Linked DNA regions of Homo sapiens: all the other regions are reported to be linked to region 1. The links are microRNA targets in miRTarBase. Many come from high-throughput screens and were not tested one by one. Region 1 holds a microRNA gene; each other region holds the end of a gene's coding sequence.

What was found. The annotated mature microRNA hsa-miR-4324 reads CCCUGAGACCCUAACCUUAA and lies in region 1 at 736-755, shown strand. An mRNA with a match to its seed (bases 2 to 7 or 8) in the 3' UTR can be bound and repressed. Matches are read on the target gene's strand: a 7mer-m8 pairs with bases 2 to 8, a 7mer-A1 pairs with bases 2 to 7 and ends in A, and an 8mer does both.
Region 2: miRTarBase lists ANKRD33B as a target of hsa-miR-4324. Seed matches in the 3' UTR shown: 8mer at 1,875-1,882.
Region 3: the mRNA of CEP76 is a reported target of hsa-miR-4324. The part of its 3' UTR that is shown has no 7-base or 8-base seed match.

What each region holds. Positions count from the first base shown.
Region 1 is chr19:49,306,339-49,309,561 of GRCh38, reverse strand. MIR4324 (microRNA 4324) reads left to right here and starts at 694; the gene lies at 694-765. SLC6A16 (solute carrier family 6 member 16) reads left to right here. Exons shown (of 12, transcript NM_014037.3): 6 at 151-261; 7 at 445-686.
Region 2 is chr5:10,649,844-10,652,843 of GRCh38, forward strand. ANKRD33B (ankyrin repeat domain 33B) reads left to right here. Exons shown (of 4, transcript NM_001164440.2): 4 at 1-3,000. The coding sequence ends at 270. Among named protein-coding and RNA genes, the nearest start is that of ANKRD33B, 87 kb to the left of the region's middle.
Region 3 is chr18:12,670,524-12,673,523 of GRCh38, forward strand. It overlaps CEP76 (centrosomal protein 76), which reads right to left. Exons shown (of 12, transcript NM_024899.4): 12 at 2,102-2,980. The coding sequence ends at 2,842. It also overlaps a transcript of PSMG2 not described here. Among named protein-coding and RNA genes, the nearest start is that of SPIRE1, 14 kb to the left of the region's middle.

The DNA of each region.
Region 1 (3,223 bases):
CCTTTGGCTTTTACTCCCCTAGCCCCTGACTCTTGCTGAAGGCTTTCTTCTAACTCCTACTCATTTCTGACTCAGAACTTTTGATCCCTCCTAACTGTTGGTTGACCCCTACTGGTACACGGTTGCTGATATGTCCCACTCTCGATTCAGGTAATCTATGTCTTGGTACTGCTCCCCTGTTTCATCATTGTCGGTTTCTTCATCCGGACTCTACTCCTGGAAGGGGCAAAATTTGGCCTTCAACAGTTGGTGGTTGCCAAGGTGAAATCTATCTCCTCACTCCCCCGTCAGGCCTTGTAGGGCACCACAGCTGCCTATTCTTAGAGCTTCCTTTCCCCATTCTTTACTTTTGTATCTCCCTCTCTCCTCCCTGCAACATTTCTATTATAGTTGTCCTCTGCTTCTTCTTTTACAACCCCCTTATGCTTGTCTTCTCTCTTTTAGATATCGGATGTGTACAATATGAGTGTGTGGTCTCTAGCAGGGGGTCAAGTTTTGTCTAACACAGGCATAGGCCTTGGCTCCGTTGCCTCCTTAGCCTCCTACATGCCCCAGTCCAACAACTGTCTCAGTGATGCCTTTCTCGTGTCTGTGATAAACCTGCTCACTTTGTTGGTTTTCACATCTTTCAACTTCTGTGTCCTGGGCTTCTGGGCGACAGTCATCACACATCGCTGCTGTGAGAGGTAAGGCCGGCCCCTTTGTTAAGGGTCTCAGCTCCAGGGAACTTTAAAACCCTGAGACCCTAACCTTAAAGGTGCTGCAAAGACCCATGTTCACACATTTCAACCTTGGGTGCACTTGCAAGCCCTCTACCTTCCCCATAGCTAAAAATGGAGACAATAGAATCTCCTATCATATATTATCCTTCTCAGAGCCTTTTGTCACCCTAGAAATAAATCTTCAAACTCAGAGATTGCCAGCTATCCACCTCAGAGTGGATATGCTAACAGGGATGTACTAAAAATTGCAAACATTGAAGGCTTCTCTAATCCCAGATACACAACAAAATACCATCCAAGACCATACCACACAGAGACTTCCAAGGCCATCCTTGGAAAAATGGAGAAGTAGAAGGCCCCCATTATTTTATTTTATTTTTATTTTTTGAGATGGAGTCTCGCTCTTTCACCCAGGCTGGAGTGCAGTGGCGCGAACTTGGCTCACTGCAAGCTCTGCCTCCTGGGTTCAAGCCATTCTCCTGCCTCAGCCTCCTGAGTAGCTGGGACTACAGGTGCCCATCACCAGGCCCGGCTAATTTTTTTGTATTTTTAGTAAAGACAGGGTTTCACCATGTTAGCCAGGATGGTCTCGATCTCCCGACCTCATAATCCGCCCGCCTCAGCCTCCCAAAGTGCTGCGATTACAGGCGTGAGCCACCGCGCCCTAAGGCCCCCATTCTTAACTGTTAACTCCTGAATTGGGGATTTCTGTCAATCTAGCAGAAACTCCAAAAGGATTCTCTGTACTAGAACCTTGATTGTCTGATCACCCCTGTTTCTTATTTTTCTTATTTTTAGGCATTAATTCCAAAAACATCCATCAGACAGACATTTAGGAAGTGTTCTTTCTATACAACAGAGACTTGGACAGGTGAATCAGACCACAGTCCTTGTTTCATTAAGTTTTCAATTTTGGAGGGGGAAGGAAAGGAGAATGAGACAGCCAAAAACTTGTGCTAACTGGTAACTGAAGTGATGGGTGAGGACAGGAGACAGAGCCATTAATTCTGTCTGGACTAGTCAGATGGGGCCTTCCAGAGGAGGCAACCCTGAGTTGAATTTCTCCCAGTAATCTTTTTTTTTTCTTTTTCTTTTTTTTCTTTTTCTTTTTTTTTGCTTCCTCCTCCTCTTCCTCTCTCTCCCAGCAGATTTTTTTTTTTTAATTTAAATTTTTGAGAACAGGGTCCCACTATATTGCTCAGGCAGGTCTTGAACTCCTGGGCTCAAGCCATCCTCCTGCCTCTGCCTCCCAAAGAGCTGGGATTACAGGCGTGAGCCACCGCGCCCGACCTCTCCTAGTAACCCTAACCCTCACAAATAACCACCATTTTCTTCTAGAAGATGCCTGGGAATATACATGTGTGCGTGTGCAAGAGTTCTTGACAGCATATAGTTAGGAAAGGAATTGCTGAGTAGGGTGTGCTCCCCTTCAATTTTATCATATATTGTCTGGTTTTCAAAGTGGCGTAATGCATTGCCCTCCCATCAGGGATGTGTGAGACTTCCATTTGTTCTACTTTTTGCACAACACTTGATTAAACTTGGTTGGACTTTTAAATTGTTTCCAGTCTGGTGGGAGTGTAATGGTAGTTTTTTTGTGTATTTTCAAAAAAACCTTTTATTATGAGCTATTACCTACATATGGAAAAATGCATAAAACAAGGCCGGGAGCAGTGGCTCACGCCTGTAATGCCAGCTCTTAGGGAGGCTGAGGTGGGAGGATTGCTTGAACCCAGGAGTTTGAAATCAGCTGGGCGAGACCCTTCCTCTAACAAAAAAAAAAAAAAAGTGTATAAAACAATGCACTGTGTAACGAACCGTGAAGTAAACATCACCTGTATTAAGAACTAGAATAACCCTAGATGCTCTCTGTGTATCTTTTTCTAATCATAATCTCTTTACTGCCTCCCAGAGGTAACCATCATAAAAGTCAGGATAGTGGTTACTATATTGCTTAGTAGATACGCATACATAGATGATCAAATGTAAAGAAAAACAAGCCGGGTGCGGTGGCTCATGCCTATAATCCCAGCACTTTGGGAGGCTGAGGCAGATGGATCACGAGGTCAGGAGTTTGAGACCAGCCTGGCCAATATGGTGAAACCCCATCTCTACTAACAAATACAAAAATTAGCCGGGCGTGGTGGCACACACCTGTAGTCCCAGCTACTCAGGAGGCCAAAGCAGGAGAATTGCTTGAACCTGGGAGGTGGAGGCTGCAGTGAGCTGAGATTGTGCCACTGCATTCCACCTGGGCAACAGAGTGAGACTCTCTCTCAAAAAAAAAAAAAAGAAAAAAAAAAAACAAAGAACTAAGGATAGTGATTAATGTTTTTCTTTATATTCTATCATCTATGTATGCATAGCTAAGCAATATAATTTGTCCACTTATATAAAGCAATATGTTTAGTTATTTGTTCCCTCATATATACATTCTCTTTGCTTACTTTTGTGCTTTCTTTTTCTCATCCAACATGTTTGCAATATTTATCCATATTGTG
Region 2 (3,000 bases), not on the chromosome of region 1:
CTCCTGCCCCTGCAGCGCCTGCGGCGGAGAAGCGTGCGGCCCGGTGTGGTGGTGCCCCGGGTCCGAGTCAGCAAGGCGCCCGCGCCCACCTTCCAGCCCGAGCGGCCGGCGCGGAAGGGCAGCACCAAGGACAGCGGCCACCTGCAGATCCCCAAGTGGCGGTACAAGGAGGCCAAGGAGGAGAAGAGGAAGGCAGAGGAGGCCGAAAAGAAGCGCCAGGCCGAGGCGCAGAAGGAGAGGCGCACTGCGCCCTGGAAGAAGAGGACGTGAGGGCCCGTGTGCCTGGCGCTGGGGCCGGGGCTGGGGCCGGGGCGGGGCCGCAGGGCTGGGCGCGGAGAAGGAGGCGGCCCCGTTGCGCATCGCACCACTTCCGCTCCATGGACCACGGGGCTGCGCGCATTTCCAGGCTGTTTGTCCAGGCTGCTTCCAAGAGAGGGCTGAGGGAGCCACATGGATTCGCTTGTCGCCAGCCCTCCTAGCAATCAGTACACCTAGCGGGCACGTTGCCTAAAAGGCTCCCTTTAGAGAACCTCAATTAAGATTTTTTTTAAAGATCAATTTATCAAAGGGCGTTTTCTCCGTAATTTTGTATTTTTAATCATTATTTATCAAATTTGCAACGTTTTACAAGTGATAGGGCCCCTTATATCCAAGGCAGTTTTAATACACTTGCCTGAAGACCTTTTGTTTAAGATACTGTTTCTAGCAATAAGTATCCATGATACCTGTATGAGTTCACACAGACATCATGGGATTCTCCCCTTTTTGGCTGTTTGGTCTTTTCTCCTCATCGTGGGTGTAGGTGCACACTGGATGTTCTTAGTCATTAGATTAAGTGTTGCCGGATATTTCTATTTGACGGAGGCATTGGCTCGTTGAGCCACATGATCAAGTGAGACAGAGGATCAGATGTTACTGTATCTTTTTAAAACTCTTATCCATATAGTAATATATTGAGGAAAAACATATTGTCAAATTATAAAACAATGGAGCGATAAACATGTATTTATTGCTAGAATTAAACTCATTTTAAGCAAGGGGTTTTAGGTAAACTGGATACGAAATCTTTAACATTAAAAATAGATATGAGAAAAAAACTGTCATTCGATAAAATGAGGCAAATTTAATAATAAATGATTACCAGAAATACAAAATTAAGCCATATGTGCTCTTAAGTAATTCGAATCCAGATATCCTTAAAATGTCAAAAAGATGCAACAAGAGTCAGGAGCCCAGAATGACGCAAATTACAGGAATGGGGAGGAGGTGATTTTTAGAAGAGGTGAGAGAATGGAATGGGGAACAGACTTGTTTTCGGCAAATTCTCCTGGAGTAGACTGGGCAGCCCCCTCCTCCAGGCTCAGTTCCAAAGAGTCCGTTGTGTGGATATTTCTTTTATTTTTCCTTTGAGGACTGCGCTTGGTGTTTAGTTCATCCTTATGCCGACCTCTTAGAATTTCCAAGATGCAGGGCCTTGGGCAGGGCAGGGCATGGGTGTGATTTGCCTTGGGCCACAAGCTCTTGGTGAGAGTCTTATGTCCACACTTTTATCTCCAAAGTGACATGGAGATCACTTTTCTCAGTGATCAAATTTGAATTTATCAAAGGGGGTTTTCTGCATAATTTTGTATTTGTAATCATTATCAGATTTGCAGCATTCTAATTCGGCAGGGCAGGGTATGAAAGCTGGAAACTCAGGCTGGAGTTTCTAGTTCTAATGGCTCTCTGGCCATGTGGGTTGTAGAGTGTCTGTCACATATGCACTTTATTTCAGTATTAATTGAAATACTTGGACACGCACGATCACAGGCCTATTTGGAGGCTCTGTACTATGACCCTAATAACCCTAGATACATCATGATACATGGTGTCTGTCTCAGGATGCAGGCAGGGCTGGTGCAGGCTTCTCCATACTCCCTTCCACTTGGCACCAGCAGGCATCGAGCAACCAGGGATCTTAAACTGGCCTCTCCAAATACTCCATTGAACAGGACTGCAGGCTGCACCCAGGCTAATGGGAGATTGGTGTGTTGATGATACAGTGTTTAAGATGAGATTGCAGTGAGTTCCTCCTTAATCCCAGAAGGGCACCATGATGAATGCCACAGGAGACTGGACCCTCTTTGAGAACTGCAGATATTAGTTGACTGTGGGTCACCCTCGTGGCCAAGGAGTTGGGATTGGCCATGTCTTCTTCGAGGAGGTGGAGACTGTAACTGACACTGGTTATCTTTGGGGTTGTCTTTCCTGAATCCTTTGGCATGTGGCACCTTCCTGCCACATGTAGATAATTCACGGCATTACCAAGTCACCACGAGCCCCACCCTCACCTCTGTCAACCGAGGACCCAGCCAGGCAGTGCCATGTGGTCTCCCAGGCACGCTTCTCAACACCGGCTACCCCTGCTGTGAAGGTTCTCAAGGCCCTGGTCCGGGGAGCCAAGCCCTGGGAGCGCCCTAAAGCTCCGCAGGTAACTGCACTGCAGCCCGCATTGAGAACCGCAGCTCTAACACAGTGATTGCGAGAGGACACCCATTCTGAGCTCCCACAGAGGGCTCCACCTCCCCAAGAATGTCTCATTGTCATTGGAACAGCCAGGGTCAGGCAGCTTCTGCTCGGACTGACGTGGCGTCTGACCCTTGGTGGGTTGCCAGACATTCCTGCCTGTTTCCACCATGGGAAGCTGTCACTGGGAATGGTATGGAGCCCTCACTTCTACCCCAAGCCTGGGTGTCTGCTGCCTCCATGTCAAAAATGGACATTTCTGGTCCTGCCCAGCTGCTACCTCACCACAACCCATGCTCAGAGTTGTCAGGGATGCGTGGAACAGCAATGATGGGACAGCAAATGACTGGCAATTTCCCCAGGTCCCACGCTGTTCTGGAGTGGACGTGTTGCGGCCCTGCCCCCGATGTGTTCCAGCCTCATCCAGGTGCACAGGATACTCTGGGGCCAGCACAGGGATTGTCCAGTGATGCTCCTGGTGTCCACAAAACAGCT
Region 3 (3,000 bases), not on the chromosome of region 1:
TGTTAATACAGCCTTGATCTTAATATAGTCTGTCTCTTAGTACATACCTCATAGTTTGTCTCAAAAGTTGAAAATTACAAGCAATTTTCTGTTGATAGCTTTTTTTGTAATTTTGGCAAAAGAGTGGTTTTTTTTAACTTTTTTAAAAAGTTTTTTTTTTCTTTGAGATAGGGTCTTGCTCTGTCACCCAGGCTGGAGTGCAGTGGCACAATCTTTTGGGCTCAAGTGATTCACCCACCTCAGCCTCCCAAGCAGCTGGGACCACAGGTGTGCACGATCACGCCCTGCTAATTTTTTACATTTTTTGTAGAGAGGGGTTCTTGCTATGTTGCCCAGGCTGGTCTTAAACTCCTGAACCCAAGAGATTCTCCTGCCTCAGCCTCCCAGAGTACTGGAATTATAGGTGTGAACCACTATGCTTTAAAAAAAGCTTCAATTATTATTTTGCTAATTTTCTACAGTCATGTCAGTCTCACAAGAAACATCTGATTACCATTTTTGATGAAAATTGTAGAAGAGGGATCATAATATTTCAGACTTTTTAAACAAATTGAATATTTATTATACATAAAAATAAAACAAAGTAGATTTATTCTTTTAGAGAAATAGGGGGGGGTCTCTCTATGCTCCCAGGCTGGTCTTGAGCTACTTCTTGGGCCATCCTCTGGCCGCAGCCTCCAAAAGTGCTGGGATTATAGGTGTGAGCCATCACACCTGGCCCAAAAAGTAAATTTTAAGACACTTTTAGATTTTAATTTTCGAAAAACGAAATCATTTTATTTGTAGGGGTGAATTAAAGTGATTAAAAGAATTAATAACTTGGATAGCCAACTGGTATAGAGTTACTTTCTTAAGACCAATGGATAAAGCAACTAAATTAAGAACTACACATATCAGAGTGAACAAAGATTCTTTGAAAAAATAAAAAACTTAAAAAAAATGAAAAGAACTATGCACAGAAGTGCTAAATGGGCAATCAAACCCCTCATATCATGTATTATGCAGCTTCTTGCAAAAAGTTGAATTGCTACTCTTTTTAAAGTTTACTTTTGTTCACTTAACACTTTTTTTAATATATAAAATTTTAAAATAAGTTGAGGAATCAGGTTTCACACTTTCTTTTTTTTTTTTTTTTTTTTTTTTGAGACAGAGTCTTGCTCTGTCACCCAGGCTGGAATGCAGTGACGCGATCTTAGCTCACCACCTCTGTGGACTCAAGCGATCCTTCCGCCTCAGACTCCCGAGTAGCTTGGATTATGGGTGTGTGACACCATGCCTAGCTACTTAAAATTAACTTATAAAAAACATTTTTTTTGAGATGGAGTATTGCTCTGTTGCCCACGCTGGAGTACAGTGGCATGATCTTGGCTCATCACAACCTCCGCCTCCCAGGTTCAAGCGATTCTCCTGCCTCAGTCTCCTGAGTAGCTAGACTACAGGCACATGCCACCATGCCCAGCTAATTTTTGTATCTTTAGTAGAGACAGGGTTTCACTGTGTTGGCCAGGCTGGTCTTGAACCCCTGACCTCGTGATCCACCCACATCAGCCTCCCAAAGTGCTGGCATTACAGGTGTGAGCCACCATGCCTGGCCCTTTTTTTTTTTTCTGAGATGCAGTCTCGCTCTGCCTCCCATGCTGGAGTGCAGTGGCGCGATCTCACCTCACTGCAACCTCTGCCTCCCAGGTTCAAGCGATTCTCCTGCCTCAGCCTCCTGAGTAGCTGGGATTACAGGTGTGAGCCACCGCACCCGGCCTAATTTTCGTATTTTTAGTAGAGACAGGGTTTCACCATGTTGCCCAGGCTGGTCACGAACTCCTGACCTCAAGTGATCCACCCACCTCGGCCTCCCAAAGTGCTGGGATTACAGGCATAAACCACTACGCCGAGCCTTACAAAATTTTTAAAACGTGCTCAATTTTAAAACAAAAATCAGTATGGAATCACTCACATATGCTTGTTTTCAGTGGTCTCACACAATCAATCTCTTATTTAGATTAGTCACATATATGCTGATTTTTTTATCACAATGAAAGAAAAAAGGGTTTCAGAAGATAGAATCCATGAAGAGGCTAATAATGAATCCTCTGACCACAGAAAATCAGTGATCGACTGCAAGATCACAATTTATCAGTATCATAACAAAGAGGTATAATAAAGTTTTTCTAAAATACCCAATTCATTTTTACAACAAATCACAGTGATAAATATTTCTAAATGATTCATGTACTTTCATATGAGGTTATTAATATTTATGCTTTTCTGGTATTAGTTTTTTCCTACTCTTGCTTCAAGGTCCAACCATAAATTTCTGGACAGTCTCAAATATCCCAAGGACCACGAATAAACCACAAAAGTGGTAATTCATTAACATTTATTTTCACCAATGCAATAAATAAATCTGTCATGAGGTTAATTTCTCCTAATCTGTATAAAATAATTCCATTAACCTGTGAAAAGTAATGATCATACTGATTTGTCTAGGGCTCAAACCCTTAGACAAACATCTCTTTGATTACCTGTTTGTGTAAAGAAAACTGAATGCATTTTATATTAATATTTAAACTACTGATAACTGTAAACAAAGTAGCATTTATTAAAATAGAATATACACTTAATTTATACTAAATTCCAGGGAGATTTATACAAGTTTTTCAGCCTTAATTTTTAAAGGAATGCATGATTTTTTTTAAACATTACCAGTCAAGTATATACAAAATTGAAGTATGCCATTCAAGCCAGATTGTGATTTTAAAATAACAAACCTCTAAATAGCTAAGTAATGTACAATGTGTAAAATTCCAATTAAACACAGGTATAAATCTTATATAAATATTGGCCCTATAATACCGAGCGATATTTACAAGCAAACATGATCCAAACAGCACATGCAGATTCAGGGTAAGTAAATACTCGGACACGAACTGCCAGTCGCACTTGGTCTCCACGGCAACAGATTATTTCTTCACAGAAAGGAGATCTATTTAAGAAAAAAAAAAT